Linked DNA regions of Homo sapiens. The protein of the gene in region 2 purifies or fractionates together with the protein of the main gene of each other region. This does not show direct contact. Each region holds a gene or a part of one and is shown on either strand. Other genes may lie near its edges.

Region 1 (4,418 bases), on a different chromosome or scaffold from region 2:
GCTCAAGTGACTTCAGCAAACATTTTAGAATCTGGCCCATCATCATACCACTGCAATCTCTGAATAACTGGTTTTGGCAGCCAGAAGAAATATACAAAGAAAAGGAATTTTTAGTCAGAGAACACAGGAGGCGCCTGAAAATCAAGAAGTAAATGGTTCTCATAACGCTCTTTTCTTTCAGTTTCTCTTATTTATCCAGAATGTCTTATCCTTGTCCCACATTTTTTAGGTTAACTACCTTATCACTGACACAAGCAATTAGAAAAAAAAAAGAATACTGCAAGTGTAAATTCACAAAGCCCATATTCTCACCTTTAAATAATTCATGACGCCAATATTTTTCATCCGGTTAGCAAAAGTATTGAAACTCTCCATGTTGCTTTTGGGATGATAAAATAGAATTTCACTTCCGAGCTTCCAAATAATCTGTCAAAGCAGAAATTACTGCCAAAATGTAAAATTTTTGCCTTAACCAATTTCTGTCTAAGATATTGTTTTCCTGATTACAACATTAATAACCTGTGATTCCTTTTCCAGAGACCACTACCGTCAACATTTTACTCTACTTTGCCATGTAAAATTAATACTACTTCCTTATGTGATAGAATAGTTTTAACCTTTCAAATTTCTATTAAAATATCAGATAGTATAATAGCATCATTATTAATTTAGTAGTTTAAAGAAAGTAGACAGTTAAGATACATATTTAATATAAAATGTTTAATTGGTATGGAAGGAAGAATATTAAAGTCAGAAAATTTGGGTTCTAATAATATTGGCTTCTTCATTGGTCTCAGCCTCTTCTTCATCATCTGCAAAATGAGGGCAACAAACTACACATTTCCTGAGAGCCCATCAAATTCTACAACTATTGACTACATTTATTCTATATTTAGAATGCCAATTTAAGAATTTTGATTAGCTATGGACAAATCTTAATAAAAAAATATTTTATCCTCAGATCACCAAAACTTTGGCGGCAGAACTTGGAGCTCTTTTTTCATGAGAGCAAATCTCTATTTCGCTAACCTCAATTTAAAGTAATCAATAATACCAACTTCAAAGTAAATTAAACTGAACTGTAAATCAATTATTTCTATGAACATACATATTGGTTATATGTGGATACACACACTATCACTGCTATAGTTATATATGATACACATATTATCATTTGATATAAGGATCCTCATCTTCCCAACTCAGAGATATCAAGATTTCATTTGTAGAATATCACACTGTAGTATTTGGGAGCTTAAAGAAAACCTGGGTCTTGGATCACCTACCACCAGGGATGGGTAAATGCAGGGGGGGAAGAAAAGCAGGAAAAAAAAAAAAAAGAAAACTTTGAGATTATGATAGCTATTCTCACCACCAGTGTACACAGTAATTACATGGGACACCAGTTAAAAATAGGTATTCTGGGCCAGGCGCGGTGGCTCACACCTGTAATCCCAGGATTTTGGGAGGCCGAGGCGGGTGGATCACGAGGTCAGGAGAGTGAGACCATCCTGGCTAACACGGTGAAACCCCGTCTCTACTAAAAATACAAAAAATTAGCCAGGCGTCGTGGCGGGAGGCGGAGCTTGCAGCGAGCCAAGATCGTGCCACTGCACTCCAGCCTGGGTGACAAAGTGAGTGAGACTCCATCTCAAAAAATAAAAAAATACAAATAAAAGATACTCTGACTCAATAGACAGGGGTGGAGTAAAGGAATTTATACTTTGAATGAAAGCCCTAGGTGATCCAAAGAGAGCCAAAGAAGTGCTCAAAAACCACTGATCCAATTCCTTCATTTTACAAAACAAAATCTGGACAACAAGAGGCTGTAACATGTTCAATGTTTTACAGGAGTATGTAACTTAAGTCCATAAATTAAATTTTCAATGAATGGTTAAACTTTTTTTTCAGCTTCTCTTTTTTATTTTTTTTGCTCTAGAAGATAACTAATTGATGCAATGGTGACTGTGTTAGTAAAACCTATGAGACACTCATGTCAAGTTATTTGTGGGTAAACTGTCTTTTACTGAAGAAATTTAGCAGTATATGCCAGGCACTGTTTTAACCCTGCCCTGTGAAATTTACATTCTATGTAGAGAGACAAACAATAACCAAGAAATATAATTAAATTGTCAACTGTTAGAGGAAAAGAATGCAGCAGGACAAGGAGATCAGGAGTGCCATTCAGAAAGTGCAGGTTGCAGTTGGAGTAAGGCAATTGCAATTTTAAATAGTCAAAGTAGGCCTCAATGAAAAGGGGCCTTGAAGGAGGGTAGCTGCAGTGATAGCTGAAGAAAGAGCTTTCCAAGAACTGGTTAAGGCAAAGGCAATCAGTCAGGAATATGCCTGGCCCATTCAAGTAAGAACAAGGAGACCAGTGAGGATGGAAAAGAAAAAACAAGCAGGATAATACAGGTTGAGTATCCCTTATCTGAAATCGTTGGGACCAGAAATGTTTCAGACTTGAAATTGTTTCCGCTTTTTAAATATTTGTATATACATAATGAGACTGGGGATAGGACCAAAGGCTAAACATGAAATTCACTTATGTTTCATATACACCTATACATATAGCCTGAAGGTAATTTTATATAATATTCTTAAAATTTTGTGCATGAAACAAAATTTGTATACATTGAACCATTAGAAAGCAAAGGTGTCACTATCTCATGTCAGTAATGAAAAAGCTTTGAAGCATTCTGGTTTTCACATTTTTGAATTCGGAATGCTCCACCTGTTTCAGGAGATGAAGTCAGAGAGGTCAAACAAGGAAAGGAAGTGAGCACATCACATAGGAATTTATAGGCAATTATGACTTTGGCTTTTACTGAATGAAATGGAAAGCTATTACAGTGTTTTCAGCAGAGGAGTGACATGATCTGATATGTTTTAAAAAGCTCACTCTGAATCATTAGTCATTAGAGAAATGCAAATCATAACCAGGATGATGCCACTTCACAACCACAAGGATGACTATTATCAGTAAGACAGGACAATAACAAAATATTGGCAAGGATTAGAGAAATTAGAAGCCTCAGATATTGCTGGTGAGAATATAAATGGTATGGCCACTTTGGAAAACAGTCTGGCAGTTCCTCAAGAGGCTAAACATAGTGTTACCATATGACCAGCAATTCCACTCCCAGGTGTAGACCCAGGAGAAATTAAAACAAACGTCCACACAAAAACCTGTACACAAATGTTCGCAGAAGCATTATTTCCAATAACCGAAAAGCAAAAACAACCTAAGTGTCTAACAACTGATAAATGGACAAATAAAACATGGTATTTCCATATGACAGATTATTTGGCAATAAAAGTAATGAAGTACTTATACATGCTACAACATGGATAAACCATGAAAACATTATGCCAAGTGAAAGAAATCATTTACAAAAGGCCACATATTGTACAAAACCACTTATATGAAATGTCCAGAATAGAAAATAGATTAGGCTGGCCATAGTGGCTCACGCTTGCAATACCAGCACTTTGGGGAGGCCGAGGTGGACAGATCACTTGAGGCCAGGAGTTCAAGACCTGCCTGGCCAACAGAGTGAAACCCAGTCTCCACTAAAAATACAAAAAACTAGATAGGTGTGGTGGTGCATGCCTGCAATCCCAGCCACCCAAGAGGCTGAGGTACAAGAATCACTTGAACACAGGAGCTGGAGGTTGCAGTGAGCAGAGATCATGCCACTGCACTCCAGCCTGGGCAACAGAGCAAGACTCCGTTTCAAAAGAAAACAAAAAAAGAAAAAGAAAGTAATAGATTAGTGGCTGCCAGTGTCCGGCAGCTGTGAGGAGGAATGGGGAAGGACTGCAAGTGGGTACAGGGTTTTGGTTTCATGGGAGAAAAAAAAGGTTCTAAATTTAGAGTGTGGTAATGGTTGGTTGCACAACTCTGTAAATGTATGAAAATACATTGAATTGTACAATTTAAGTGGGTGATGGCGTATAAAAAACGTCTTGATAAAACGAAAAAAAAAAGGATCACTCTAGTTGGAAAAAGAGAACAACTCTTTCAAGAAGTTTTGCTGAAAGAGAGTAAAACAATGAAGTATAGTCTATGGGGGAAGTTTGGGTCAAGAGATGATTTTAAGATAGAATAGGCTGGGCATGGTGGCTCACACCTGTAATCCCAGCACTTTGGGAGGCCGAGGCAGGCGGATCACGAGGTCAAGAGATTGAGACCGTCCTGGCCAACCTGGTGAAACCCCGTCTCTACCAAAATACAAAAAATTAGCCGGGCGTGGTGGTACATGCCTGTAGTCCCAGCTACTCAGGAGGCTGAGGCAGGGGAATCACTTGAACCCAGGAGGTAAGAGATTGCAGTGAGCCGAGATCGCGCTACTTCACTCCAGCCTGGCGACAGAGCAAGACTCCGTCTCAAAAAAAAAAAAAAAAGATAGAATAAC
Region 2 (4,418 bases):
AGCAAACTTTTTCTGTATGTGGTGAGAGTAAAATCGAGGCTCCGTGGGCCACATACGGTCTCTGCTGCAGCAATTCAACACTGCTGTTGTAGTATGAAAGCAGCCATAGATGATGTAGAAAGGAACATGCATGGCTTTGTTCCAGTAAAACTTTATTTACAAAAGCAGTCAGCAGGCCATAGTTTGCCAGCCTCCTCTGGAAAGAACAGTTAGAGAGAAAGGTAGTGCCTTGAATGCCAGTCTAAGAAACGTATATTTTATTTCCTCAATGACAGAGGATTTTAAAAAATCACTTTTATCACCCTGGAGAACCCAGTTTATGTGTGTAATATGCCCTCTTTTGTCATCAGATTTCATCTAACTTACTATTAAAAGTTGCCAAGAAAGCTAAGCTGTGGCCTCAAGCAGATGGCTGAAAAAATAACGCAGTAAGATTTGCTTTCCAATGCCTTAAGAGTTTGCATTTGTGTACTTTGAGTCAGTTGGGCTAAGAGGGAAATAGCAGTTTGTTCTTCGTACTCTGATAGATGGGATGATGGGCTCCATGGGTAAGGGAGGTTAGGACAAGCCACTGAATACAGTTGGGGGAAATGTCTGCAAGTCCATATTATTTTTTGTCTGATTTGCAAGACCTGTTTCTTGTAGATTTGATCATAACCCTGAGAAATATTGGCAGACTAGTCTGTCAGGGAGTAATATTCTACCCAAACTCACACAGGAACATTTTGAATGCTGCTGAGAGTCCAAAGTCAATAGGGTTGCCAGGATGAGCAAATAAAAATCTAGTTAAATCCAGGACACCCAGTTAAATTGGAATTTGCTCAACAAAAAAAGTAAGTATAATTATATCCCATTCACTATTTGGGACATTCATAAACTAAAAAATTATTTGTTGTTTATCTGAAATTCAAACTTAGCTGGGAATCCTGTATTATACCTGGCAATCCTAAAAATGAAGATAAATGAATAGTTTCTTGCACTACATAAATTACATCATTATGTCACTTGATTAGTACCCTTCACCAATGATTTTTTTTTTAATTGTGGGAGTCTAATGACAGTTGAATCTCATTACTTCCAACCTCACTGTTTTAGAATTTTGATTATTTATGCAAGAGCTATGCTAAAGTGCACTTTATTCTCTTCATGAATTTAGGAAGCCTATTTGTCATTGATAGTACAAATAAAACTGAAAGAAAACTATTTATCTCCTTGGGATACTACAAATAGTATAATTACCTTTTAACCAGAAGCTATCATTATTTAGAATCTGCTTTTCATTTAATAATTATAGATCATTCACAGTTGTTCATTGAAATAAGTCAAGACTTTACCAGACAGAGTCAGGTGCAGCCACCTAAGTCCTGATGGCCCGCTTTGCGTCCCATCTGCTCCAGTTCACAGTGTGTCTTGCCAGTCTCTCCTATACCATTGTGTTTGTTTTGTTCCTTATCCGCTCTAGAGCCTCACACAATGCTTGCTACTGAGAAGGCACACTGTAAATGTTGACTAGTTGTGGCTGGGAGGCCGAGTTGGGTGGATCCCTTGAGCCCAGGAGTTCGAGACCAGCATACGTAACATGACAAAACCTCATCTCTACAAAAAAAAACAAAAATTAACCCGGTGTGGTGACACATACCTGTGGTCCCAGCTACTTGGGAGGCTGAGGTGGGAGGATGGCTTGAGCCCCAGGAGGTCGAGGCTGCAGTGAGCCATGATCATGCCACTGCACTCCAGCCTGGGCAATAGAGCAAGATCCTCTCTCGAAAAAAAAAATTACTAGTTGAATTAATGAATAAATACTCTCTGCCTATGTTAAAATAATCAAGCTGTCTTTGTTTCAAAATTTTCTTACATTTTAAATTTTAAAAATAATTTGAGTTGGTCTTTCCCTATTCCAAATTTTAGTACTTAAAGGGAATTTTGGGTGTTTCATTGCATAGGGCCTTTCAGAGGATAACAATGAAAACATGTTCCTGAACTTGCAAATATATATTACAAGGAGAGAGATGGAGAAGTGCTGGTAAAATCACGTGAGCATCCCTGTGAGCTTTCTTCTGGTATAGGACCGTGGGTCTCAAACTATCAGGATGCTAATGATATCAGCAGGGTGGAGCATTCAGTCTTCCTTACTTGCCCCTACTGGCCATGATCATGGATGTATGTATATACATAGATATACATACATACATACATACATACATAGATATATAGATATACTTAAATAAATCCCCATATGTCTTCCAAGGAGATGGAAGGGATTTCATTTGACTGGATACCAATTACGGCTATTAATGATAAATAATACATTAGTGACTTGAAACAAATGTGTAGACATTCACACACTTTAAGCCACATTTCTATCATTAGAGATTACTATATACAAGCCATCTGAAAGACCCTTGAGAACTACCAGTGAATTCTGGAGCACTCTTGAGGGAAATTAGACATGAATGGTTTGCTTGTGGAACAGGTAACACCAGAATTTCTATTGCCTGAAAACATACTCAAGTGAACTTGTTCTCAGTTTCCATCAGTAGCTTTTTTCTTCTCTATTTTCTCCAGCAGAGTAAAAGGATTCCCAGGAACCATGAGATTGGGTATTAAATCTCCGTCTTTCTTCTCAGTCTTACCCACGTCCATGAAGCACCTTTTCCTAGCAGTCGATGATAATTTAGGAGGCTGCGCTGAATCCATGTCAGGGCTGACACAGCTGGGCATGCAGTTCCTTGGATATGATCCTTTCTTCTAAGAGAGTCAAGTCATGGTCTGACTATTCCTTTTTGTTTTTCCTTTCCTCACAGCACCCTGGAGGGGTATTATGTGGATGATGCCTTGCAGGGCCAGGGAGTTTACACTTACGAAGATGGGGGAGTTCTCCAGGGCACGTATGTAGACGGAGAGCTGAACGGTCCAGCCCAGGAATATGACACAGATGGGAGACTGATCTTCAAGGGGCAGTATAAAGATAACATTCGTCATGGAGTGTGCTGGATATATTACCCAGTAAGCCGTGTGACTGTTCACTCTGCTGGAAAGTAACATACTGTGACTCTTCACAATGAAGAGTAAAATGTATTCTGTGTTAGAACTTGGGAGCTGTGAAACCTGAGAGTCACCACAGCTGACACCAAGAGTTTATGAGGCATGCCCTCTCACTGTTACTCACTATTGGCTTAGATTGTTGGCCCTTGAATCCGTTATTAATTATTTTTCAGCGTTGTTTTGGAAAGGAGTAATTAATCATGATTAAAACAAATTGAGACAAATTGGTTTTATTGTATCACTAATAAAGGCAAAATATATTGCTTTTAATTCTTTTGGCACATAGAGGGAGATAGTGGAAATTTTCATTGTTGCTATTAGTTTTATTTCCTGTTTCTCATATGTAAAAACCAGTCCAGCAATTTTTAATTTGGGAGAGCTTACTGCACTGTTGTTACTTGATTCTACAATTCCACTAACTGCTTTTTAAGGTATTTTATGGTTTATATTGTTTAAATTAAGGTGATTAAAATTAACTTACCTTTGAGTATTTGATAGCATTTTATGATATTTCTGGAGTCTATTAAAGTAAAAAGATATGGCAGAACCCATGGTTGGAAATTAATGCTCTAATTTTTGTTTGCATTTCAAATGTCCCATCTGTTGTTACTGAATTTCCAGAAAATGTTACAGAAAATACACCTTAGAAAACACTTTATCTTTATTTTATTTTATTTTTTATTTATTGAGACAGGGTCTTGTTCTGTTGCCCAGGCTGGAGTGCAGTGGCACGATCTTGGCTCACTACAACCTCCATCTCCCAGACTCAAGCCATCTTCCCACCTCAGCCTCCTTAGTAGCTGGGATTACAGGCCTATGTCATCACATCTGGCTAATATTTTTGTGTTTTCTTTTTTGAGACAGGGTTTCTCTAAAACCTAGTCTCGAACTCCTGGGCTCAAGCAATCCACCTGCCTTGGCCTCCTGAAATGCTGAAATTACAGGCATGAGCCATTGCACCTGGCTAGAAAATATTTTGCTTAATACTTTATTTTGTTCATAACTTAAGTCAAAATACTCTTTTTTTGTTTTGAGACAGAGTCTTGCTCTGTTGCCCAGGATGAGGTGCAGTGGTGCCATGTCGGCTTACTGCAACCTCTGCCTCGTGGGTTCAAGTGATTCTTCTGCCTCAGCCTCCCAAGTAGCTGGGATTGCAGGCACAGGCCACTACGCCCGGCTAATTTTTTTGTATTTTTAGTAAAATGGGGTTTCACCATGTTGACCAGGCACTGGTCTCAAACTCCCGACCTCAGATGATTTCCTTGCCTCGGCCTCCCAAAGTGCTGGGATTACAGGTGCGAGCCACCACACCAAGCTGAAAATATATTTTTACTCTGAAACCTTATGATTAAAAAGTGCTAATAAAAAGAAAT
Region 3 (3,723 bases), on a different chromosome or scaffold from region 2:
TGAAGTTTGAAAGCATTTTGTATAAACAAAATTAGCCAAGGCCTGATAACTGCTGTTAAATATGCAGACCCACAGGGCATAAGACTAACATTCAGCATTTGCTCCTCAGCAAAAAGGAAACCTGAATCCTAGAACCTGTCAATATTAGCAGCTTGCTGCCATCTGGGATTTTGACATGACGGACCAGCGTCCATGTGCTTCTTATGTCTATAATCCATCAACGCACCGCAAGTCACATTCAACCTGTTTTCTCACTAGCAAAACAGGAATACTACCAGCTTGCCAGAGTGGTTTGAGAACTGAATACAATTTTATATATAGATGTATATATAATTTAGCGTATCTGTTATATATATATCATCTTATATATATGCAAATAAAATCCTTGGTATTTTATGCCTGGTATGGAGTATGCACAATACATCATTATATAAAGTAAAAATAAAAACATTATATAAAAAAAAAAAACAAAGGTCAGCAAGTAAACTATGAGAAAAAATCACTATCAATATCAGATTTTATTTTTATTTATTTATTTATTTATTTTTGAGACGAAGTCTCGCTCTGTCACCCAGGCTAGAGTGCAGTGCTGCAATCTCGGCTCACTGCAACCTCTCTGCCTCCTGGCTTCAAGCAATTCTCTTCCTTCAGCCTCCCGAGTAGCTGGGACTATAAGTGCCCACCACCACGCCCAGCCAATTTTTTTTTTTTGAGACGAAGTCTCTCTCTTGTCACCCAGGCTGGAGTGCAATGGCACGATTTCGGCTTACTGTAACATCCACCTCTTGGGTTCAAGTGATTCTCCTGCCTCAGCCTCCCAAGTAGCTGGGATTACAGGTCCCTGCCACCACACCCAGCTAATTTTTGTATTTTTAGTAGAGACGAGGTTTCACTATGTTGGCCAGGCTGGTCTCGAACTCCTGACCTTGTGATCTGCCCACCTTGGCCTCCCAAAGTGCTGGGATTACAGGCATGAGCCACCATGCCCAGCCAATATCAGATTTTTTGAAAAGGCTGTTCAAGTTACAACTGATCAAAGGCTTTGCCACATCATTTGGAGCAAAACTGATCTTAAGAAAGTTTGGGTGGATAAGCAGAGACTGAAAGTCTGGGACAAGGGTATGAACTCTGAGCAGCTGCACCTGGAGATCTGGGCTGAGAAACCAGCTTTGCCACTCATGAGCTGGTGTCCCTGGACATGTGCCTGATGAGGGCCACATACTCAGATAGAAAAAGGGCTGAGAAGGCAAGGCTGGCCTTGTCTACAATGTAGCACTTAGTCCAATGAGACAATATAGGTTACTCACATAAGCCATCCATAATACATTAAAACAAGCAAGGGCAAACTTGAAAAACCAACCAAGAAACAAACAAACAAACAAAAATTGCAGTAGGGCAAAAACATCTGCAAGTCCAGCACACGAAGAAAGCCACTGGAGGTGGGGATGGGTGGCTGGGGCCCTGGCTGAACAGGTAACCAGAAGTAAACAGCCACTCTTGAGTTCTGGGTTTCCTTGCCTATGGACTATGGTCCTGACAAACGACCTGCTCCCTCTGGGACCAGCTTCCTTATCAGTAAACAGGGAGTTGGGCTTGATGGCCTCCAGGTCCCTTTCAGCTGAAATATTTCATGGTTCATAATGAAAATAACAATACTATTGTGCGCTTATTATGAGCCAGGCTCTTGGATGATGATTAATTCTCACCACCATGCTCTTGTTAATATTATCCTCATTTCATAGATGAATAAATGAAGACACAGAGAGGTGAAGTAATGTGCTTGCTTCCACACAGAAAGTGAAGAGGCAGGATTCCAACCCTGGCAGACGGACTCCAGAGCTGTGCTCTCCACCTTGGCCACCCAGCCCCCTGCAAGAGCCCGAGTGGGAAACAGAAAGACCTGGCAATGTCCCCCAACCCTCACCTCATGTATGGAAGAGGCTCCTGGTTCTGCTACTCCACTTGCTCAGTCTGTTGAAGGAAAGAAAAGATGTTTTAATGTCCTTGAAGTTGGTCAGCATGAGAAGTGACCGTCCCCACTGAAACATGAGGGGTGGCCCGCAGGCTCTGTTCACTTTCAGATGAACTCAGTGCACTACTGTGGTATGCTCAAGAATCTGACTGGCCTTTCCCCCTGGTTCCTGGGAGGGAAATGCCGAATCCTTGGAATTTCCTGGGTAACAAGAGTGTCTTTGTTATTTCTGATGCCCTTGGATCACATCTGGATTTATGTTATGAGATGATTCAGGATGGGGCTGCTCACCACAAAGACCAACCATGGGATCAGGGGCTGGGGCTTGGAGCCCACGTCAACTCTGGGGAGGGGAGGTTGGCTGGAGATTGAGTTCTAACACATGACCAACGATTTGATCAATCTTGCCTGCATAAATAAACCCCAATAAAAATGCTGGGTGTGGAAGTTCAGTGGCACTTCCCGGTTGGTGAACACATGGGTGTGCCGGGAGGGTGACGTGCCCTGCTTTCATAGGGAGGAGGCACAGAAGCTCTGCATTCAGGACCCTCCTGGGCCCACTTCTATCTTATGGCTGGTCCTGATCTGCATCCTTTATAAAACTGTCATTGTTAAGTACTACACTTTACCGAGTTTTATGAACCATTCTAGCTAATTATTCAATCTGAAGGTTCTATGAGTTTCTGCTGATTTTCATTAGAAGTTAAACTGAAGACCTTATGGGCCCTTTTCTACGTGTGTGTGTCTCTGTGTGCACACTTCTGCATGATTGTTTCTTTTTTTAATAGACAAGGTTTCCCTCTGTAACCCAGGCTGTAGTGCAGTGGCACAATCACAGCTGTCTGGGCTTAACAGATCATCCTGCCTCAGCTTCCCAAGTATGCCACCACGCTCAGCCTTTTTTTTTTTTTTTTTTTTTTTGATGGAGTCTTGCTCTGTCACCCAGGTTGGAATGCAGTGGCGCAATCTCGGTTCACTGCAACCTCTGCCTCCTGAGTTCAAGCAATTCTCCTGCCTCAGCCTCAGGAGCAGCTGGGATTATAGGTGTGTGCCACCACACCCAGCTAATTTTTTTTGGTACTTGTTTTTAGAGATGGAGTTTTGCCATGTTTGCCAGGCTGGTCTTGAACTCCTAATCTCAAGTGATCTGCCCGCCTCAGCCTCCCAAAGTGCTGGGATTACAGGTGGGAGCCACCACGCCTGGCCCTGCCCAGCTAATTTTTTGATAGAGATAGGGTCTTGCTATGTTGTCCAGGCTTTTTGCCCAATTTAAAAAAAAATTCCCTTACGATGATGATCTATATTCCACAGATGAGTTTTTTGTTTGTTTGTTTTTTGTTTTTTTTTTTGAGAGGGAGTCTCGCAATCTTTCCCAGGCTGGAGTGCAGTGGCACGTTCTCAGCTCACTTCAACCTCTGCCTCCTGAGTTCAAGCGATTGTCCTGCCTCACCCTCCCAAGTAGCTGGGATTACAGGTGCCCAACACGCCCAGCTAATTTTTTTTTTTGTATTTTTAGTAGAGATGGGGTTTCACTATGTTGGCCAGGCTGGTCTAAAACTCCTGCCCTCGTGATCCAGCCGCCTTGGCCTCCCAAAGTGCTGGGATTACAGGTGTGAGTCACTGCACTCGGCTCCAGATAAGTCCTTTGTTTCAAATATATTCTCCTACTTAGGCTCACTATTTTACTCTCATGATTTTTATTACATAAACATCCTCAATTATAATGTAGTTCATATTATCTACCTTTAAAT
Region 4 (4,360 bases), on a different chromosome or scaffold from region 2:
AGTCGAATCTTTAATCCAGTGATTTACCTTGGAGGACAGAGCTGTCCAATAGAAATACATAATATAACACAAGCCACATGTATGATTTCACATTTTCTAGTAGCCACAATTAAAAAGGGAAAAGAAAGAGATGAAGTTCATTTGATTTAACTCAAATATATTTAAAAATTGTCATTTCAGCACACAATTAAAAAAATTATCAGTTGGCAAGAACTTGGCATTCTTTTCATTTGTACTAAGTCTTTGAAACCAAGTATATACCTTGCACTCACAGCACATGTAGATTTAGACTAGCTACATTTTAAGCATTTGATACATGTGGCTAGTGGCTGCTGTGTCACACAGGGAGGTTCTATAATTTTTCTCAGAGATATGGAGAAAGGATAAATCAAGGATGCTTATTTCAGAATTATTAGTAATAGGAAAACCATCTAACATTAAGATGTTTTGCACAAATGTCAACTCCATGAGGACAGGGATTTTTTTATTTAAAAAATTCTGGAAGTCTTGGCTCTGCAGGGTCATGAGGACAGGGATTTCTGTCTGCTTTTGTGCATTGCTATATTCCCAGTGCCCAGAGCTATGCTTGGCACATAGTAAGTGCTCAATAAATATTTCTTGTTGAATCAATGTATATACACACACAATACCCCTAGATATGCATCTGTACTTCTTGGCTCTGTGCCTTGAAGTTAATAAACACCCAATAAATGGTATTTGCTTTATTTTTATTGTTATTGATAATACATTAGACATTACCCTCCCATCAGGTGCACAGAAGAAAGTCAAGGCTGGAATTTCATTCTCTTATCTAAATCTCTCTGTTCTCTCTCAGGGAATATTTTCAGAGAATAGGTGGAATGAAGTGAGGCTGTGGAGAATGTTATCTATGATAGGATAGAGGGCATAGAAGGCCAGGAGTCAGGAGACCTGGGTTCTGTCCTGGATTATACACCAGCTCACTGAGGAGCTTTGTCCTCTCTGGATCAAGAGTCCCACCTGAAAATGAAGGAACTGGTCCAGATAACACTGGAGCCCTTTCCCCCAAGATGCACTGGCATTCAGAGGATGGTGCAGGTCCAGTCCTCTTCTGCCTGTGGGGTGGATGCTGCCTGGAGTGTGCTGGGTCTATGAGAGAAATGAGGGTACTCATGTGTTCCAATGTAACCATATTTCTGATACCTCCTGGGATCGTCGGTCTCATCGTCTGCACTGTTGCTTTCAGCCTGAAAGGGTGAGACACATGATCACATCAGGGAGTCTTCCTGCATTGCAGCTGGATTCAGTGAGCATTTACGGTAGACACTGTGACATGCCATCTGGATCCCCCTTTGAGGAAGGACTAACAAGCCCCAGCTGCTGGGACAGTGGTCAGCAGACAGACTTCAGCCGTCAGCCCTTTTAGGGGTTGCCTCAGCTGCAGAGAGCCTTTTGCTCAAAGCCATGCCCTTTCCCAAGGTGCCCAAGCACAGTGAGTGATCCACGTAGGGGTATAGAAGCCTGGCCACCTCTGTCACCATGGGGCAGCTCTAAAGGCCATTCCAGCTCCAGGGCTGTCCTTGGAGTTGGCTGAAACTGGCATTCGCTCTGCATCCCTGTTCACTTCTCCCTATTCTCTTTCATGCTTCCTTCCTATCCTTTCTTCCCCCCTTTCCCTGAGTGCTGGTTCCAGTGGCTCTCCCCCAGAACATCCTGCATACTAAATTCCATCCTGGAGTCTGCTTCCTAGCCATCTGCAACATCATCAATCCCCTGGAATCAGACAGATTCCTGCTTGGAGGTGGAAAGATCCAAGACTGGGTCCTTTGCCCCTGTTTAGCTGTGTGACAACCCAAGTCACTCAGCTGCTCAGAGTCTCCCATTGGTCAGATGAGAGGTGGGGATGTGACAAGGCAGGCTGTTTAGCACAGTGACATGAGCACTGGCTTTAGAGTCCACTGAGCTTGAATTCCATTTCCACCACTTGTTAGCTGATGTCCTTGAGCAAGTGACCTCACCTCTCTGAGCCTTTGTCTCATCTGTAAGATGGGAATGATAGAAAACATGCCTCATGGGACTTTTCAAATAACTAAAAGTAGAATGTCCATTCAACCCAGCAATCCCACTACTCGGTATCTACCCAAAGGTAAAGAAATCATTCTATCAAAAGACACCGGCACTCGTATGTTTATCGCAGTACGATTCACAATAGCAAAGTCATGGAATCAACTTAAGTGCCCATCAGTGTGAACTGGATAAAGAAAGTGTGGTATATCTACACCATGGAGTATTATGCAGCCATAAGAAAGAATGAAATCATGGTTGCAGCTGGAGGCCATTATCCGAAGTGAATTAACCCAGAAACAGAAAATCAAATACTTAACATCTGCTAAAGATGGGAACAATAGACACTAGGGACTCCAACAGGGAGGAGGAAGGGAGAAAGGCAAAGGTTGAAAAAATTCTTTTTGGGTACTCTGTTCACTATTTGGGCGACAGGATCAATAGAGGCCCAAACCCCACCATTACACAATATAGCTGTGTAACAAATGGCACATGTGCCCTCTGAATCTAAAATAATAAAAAATTTTTAAAAATGCCTCATGGGATTGTTGTGACTATTTAATGAGAGAGTGCATATTAAAGGGCTTAGGACAGAACCTGAGCCCGAAGCAGACAGTCAATAAATGGTGTTAGAGATTATTTATTATTACTCTTAGGGGAATGAATTCTGGACAAGGGATGTGAAAATTCCAGAAACCCTCGATTGTGACCAAAATGACTGTAAAATATGGAGCACAGCCTGTCACTATATGAATATAAATGGCCTTTGGCAAGAGGTAAGTTCTTTGGAAAGAATGGTCTCCAGCTATATGTCTCAAGCTTCATGGAGAGGGGCAGGGATGAATGGCAGGGAGGAAGCAGGAGGTCTCACCAGCAGAATCCAGGAGCTCACTGGGGACCCATCCCAATTCTTAAAGCATGGGTAATTCAGCCAGGCCTCAGCCTCTTGTGCCAGCTGCCTCCAACCCTTTGGGTCTCCACCACCCAAGTTTCCTGTAGGGTCCGCCGGGTCCAGGATCACAGGCCTGCAGAGCAGCATTTAGAGAGGGACAGGTGAGAAGCTGGGGCTCTGTCTAGGGAGTCCAGATGCTCCTGGGAGAGCAAAATAGCAGCATGGGATGAACTGGGACTCAGAACATGAGGAAGGGCTCCCTGGGGTATGTCCCCAGTGCCCTATTCCCCAGCAGGCAGTGAGCATGAGGAGAAGGAGCCTTGCACTTGCACCTGACAGATGTGGGTTTGAATCCCACCTCTGCCCTTTATCAGTGATGTGCCCTTGGGTAGGTCACTTGAACTCTCTAAGCCTCAGGATTCTTATCTGTAAAATGGGAATAGTTCCACATACCTATCTCAAAGGCTATGCTGTGAGGATAGAAAAAGCCCAGTTATATGAAATGCTCAGCACAGCGACTAGAACATAACATACATATCAGTAATATTGCTAATAATTTTTACTATTATATTAGCATGTGTTAGTCTTACAACAAGCTTTCAATACCTGGGAGCAATTACTATCATTGTTGTTGCTGCTGTTCTTATTTCAGTTCAAACTGCAGCTATTTTACTCATTTTCTGTTAAGGGTTGGACAAGCTCCTTACCTCTCAGAACCTCAGTTTACTCACCTGTAAAATAATTGGCATAGTGCCTGCCTCACAGGGTTGGAGGTAGGTGTTTAAAACAGATGGCAGTAGTAAAATGCCCAGTACAATGATGGGCAACAGGAGATTCTCACTAAGTGGGGAGCCCTCCCACCTCCTCCATTTCCAAGGCACTGTACCTGTATCCAGGTGTTCATTTACATAGGGGAGCTAAGCCATGTGGGGATAGCATACCTGGGTTTCGTGAGCTGCCTTCTCAGGTACTTTTCAATAATGGGGTTTTTAAAGTCATAATACTTTGTCCAGTAGATGCAGAGTTGCTGGTAGTTTATGACTAATTCCAAGACCGTCCGAAATCCCTGGGCTGTGTTGAAATGTGTTTTCATGCTCCCTCGCTCCCAAGCATAGACCGTCAGGAGCTCCAGGGCATACTGAGGTGGCAGCTTCCCAAGCTTCTTCTTACACTGAGAAGAGGAAAAACAATCAGAAAAAAATTGGTTTGCTCAACTTTTGTGTAAACTACACTTCTCATGGGCCAAATCCAGCCTGCCACCTGTTTTTATAAAGTTTCCTTGGAACGAATCCAGGCTCATTCATTTATGTATAGTTTATGACTGCATTCATGCTACAAAGGCAGGGTTGAGTAGTTGCAACAGAGGCTGTGCAGTCCACAAAGTCTAAAATATTTACTATCTAGCCTTTTATTTTTTAAAAAAGT

The links.
Region 1: the proteins of SETD7 (region 2) and TAF1A purify together in Homo sapiens (co-immunoprecipitation; one large-scale study listed by IntAct). This does not show direct contact.
Region 3: the proteins of SETD7 (region 2) and TPST1 purify together in Homo sapiens (co-immunoprecipitation; one large-scale study listed by IntAct). This does not show direct contact.
Region 4: the proteins of SETD7 (region 2) and OAS1 purify together in Homo sapiens (co-immunoprecipitation; one large-scale study listed by IntAct). This does not show direct contact.

The regions. Positions count from the first base shown.
Region 1 is NC_000001.11:222,579,447-222,583,864, forward strand, and holds part of TAF1A (TATA box-binding protein-associated factor RNA polymerase I subunit A), read right to left. Parts: intron 445-4,418; exon of another isoform or gene 427-444; coding exon 313-426; intron 1-312. UniProt on the Homo sapiens protein: Component of the transcription factor SL1/TIF-IB complex, which is involved in the assembly of the PIC (pre-initiation complex) during RNA polymerase I-dependent transcription.
Region 2 is NC_000004.12:139,531,753-139,536,170, reverse strand, and holds part of SETD7 (histone-lysine N-methyltransferase SETD7), read left to right. Parts: intron 1-2,804; coding exon 2,805-3,006; coding exon of another isoform or gene 3,007-3,042; exon of another isoform or gene 3,043-3,606; intron 3,607-4,418. UniProt on the Homo sapiens protein: Histone methyltransferase that specifically monomethylates 'Lys-4' of histone H3. H3 'Lys-4' methylation represents a specific tag for epigenetic transcriptional activation.
Region 3 is NC_000007.14:66,355,073-66,358,795, reverse strand, and holds part of TPST1 (protein-tyrosine sulfotransferase 1), read right to left. Parts: intron 1,972-3,723; coding exon 1,954-1,971; 3' UTR 1,925-1,953; intron 1-1,924. UniProt on the Homo sapiens protein: Catalyzes the O-sulfation of tyrosine residues within acidic motifs of polypeptides, using 3'-phosphoadenylyl sulfate (PAPS) as cosubstrate.
Region 4 is NC_000012.12:112,916,255-112,920,614, reverse strand, and holds the end of OAS1 (2'-5'-oligoadenylate synthase 1), read right to left. Parts: intron 4,107-4,360; coding exon 3,877-4,106; intron 3,069-3,876; coding exon 2,915-3,068; coding exon of another isoform or gene 2,858-2,914; exon of another isoform or gene 2,019-2,857; coding exon of another isoform or gene 1,902-2,018; exon of another isoform or gene 1,227-1,901; coding exon 1,062-1,226; coding exon of another isoform or gene 922-1,061; 3' UTR 712-921; downstream 1-711.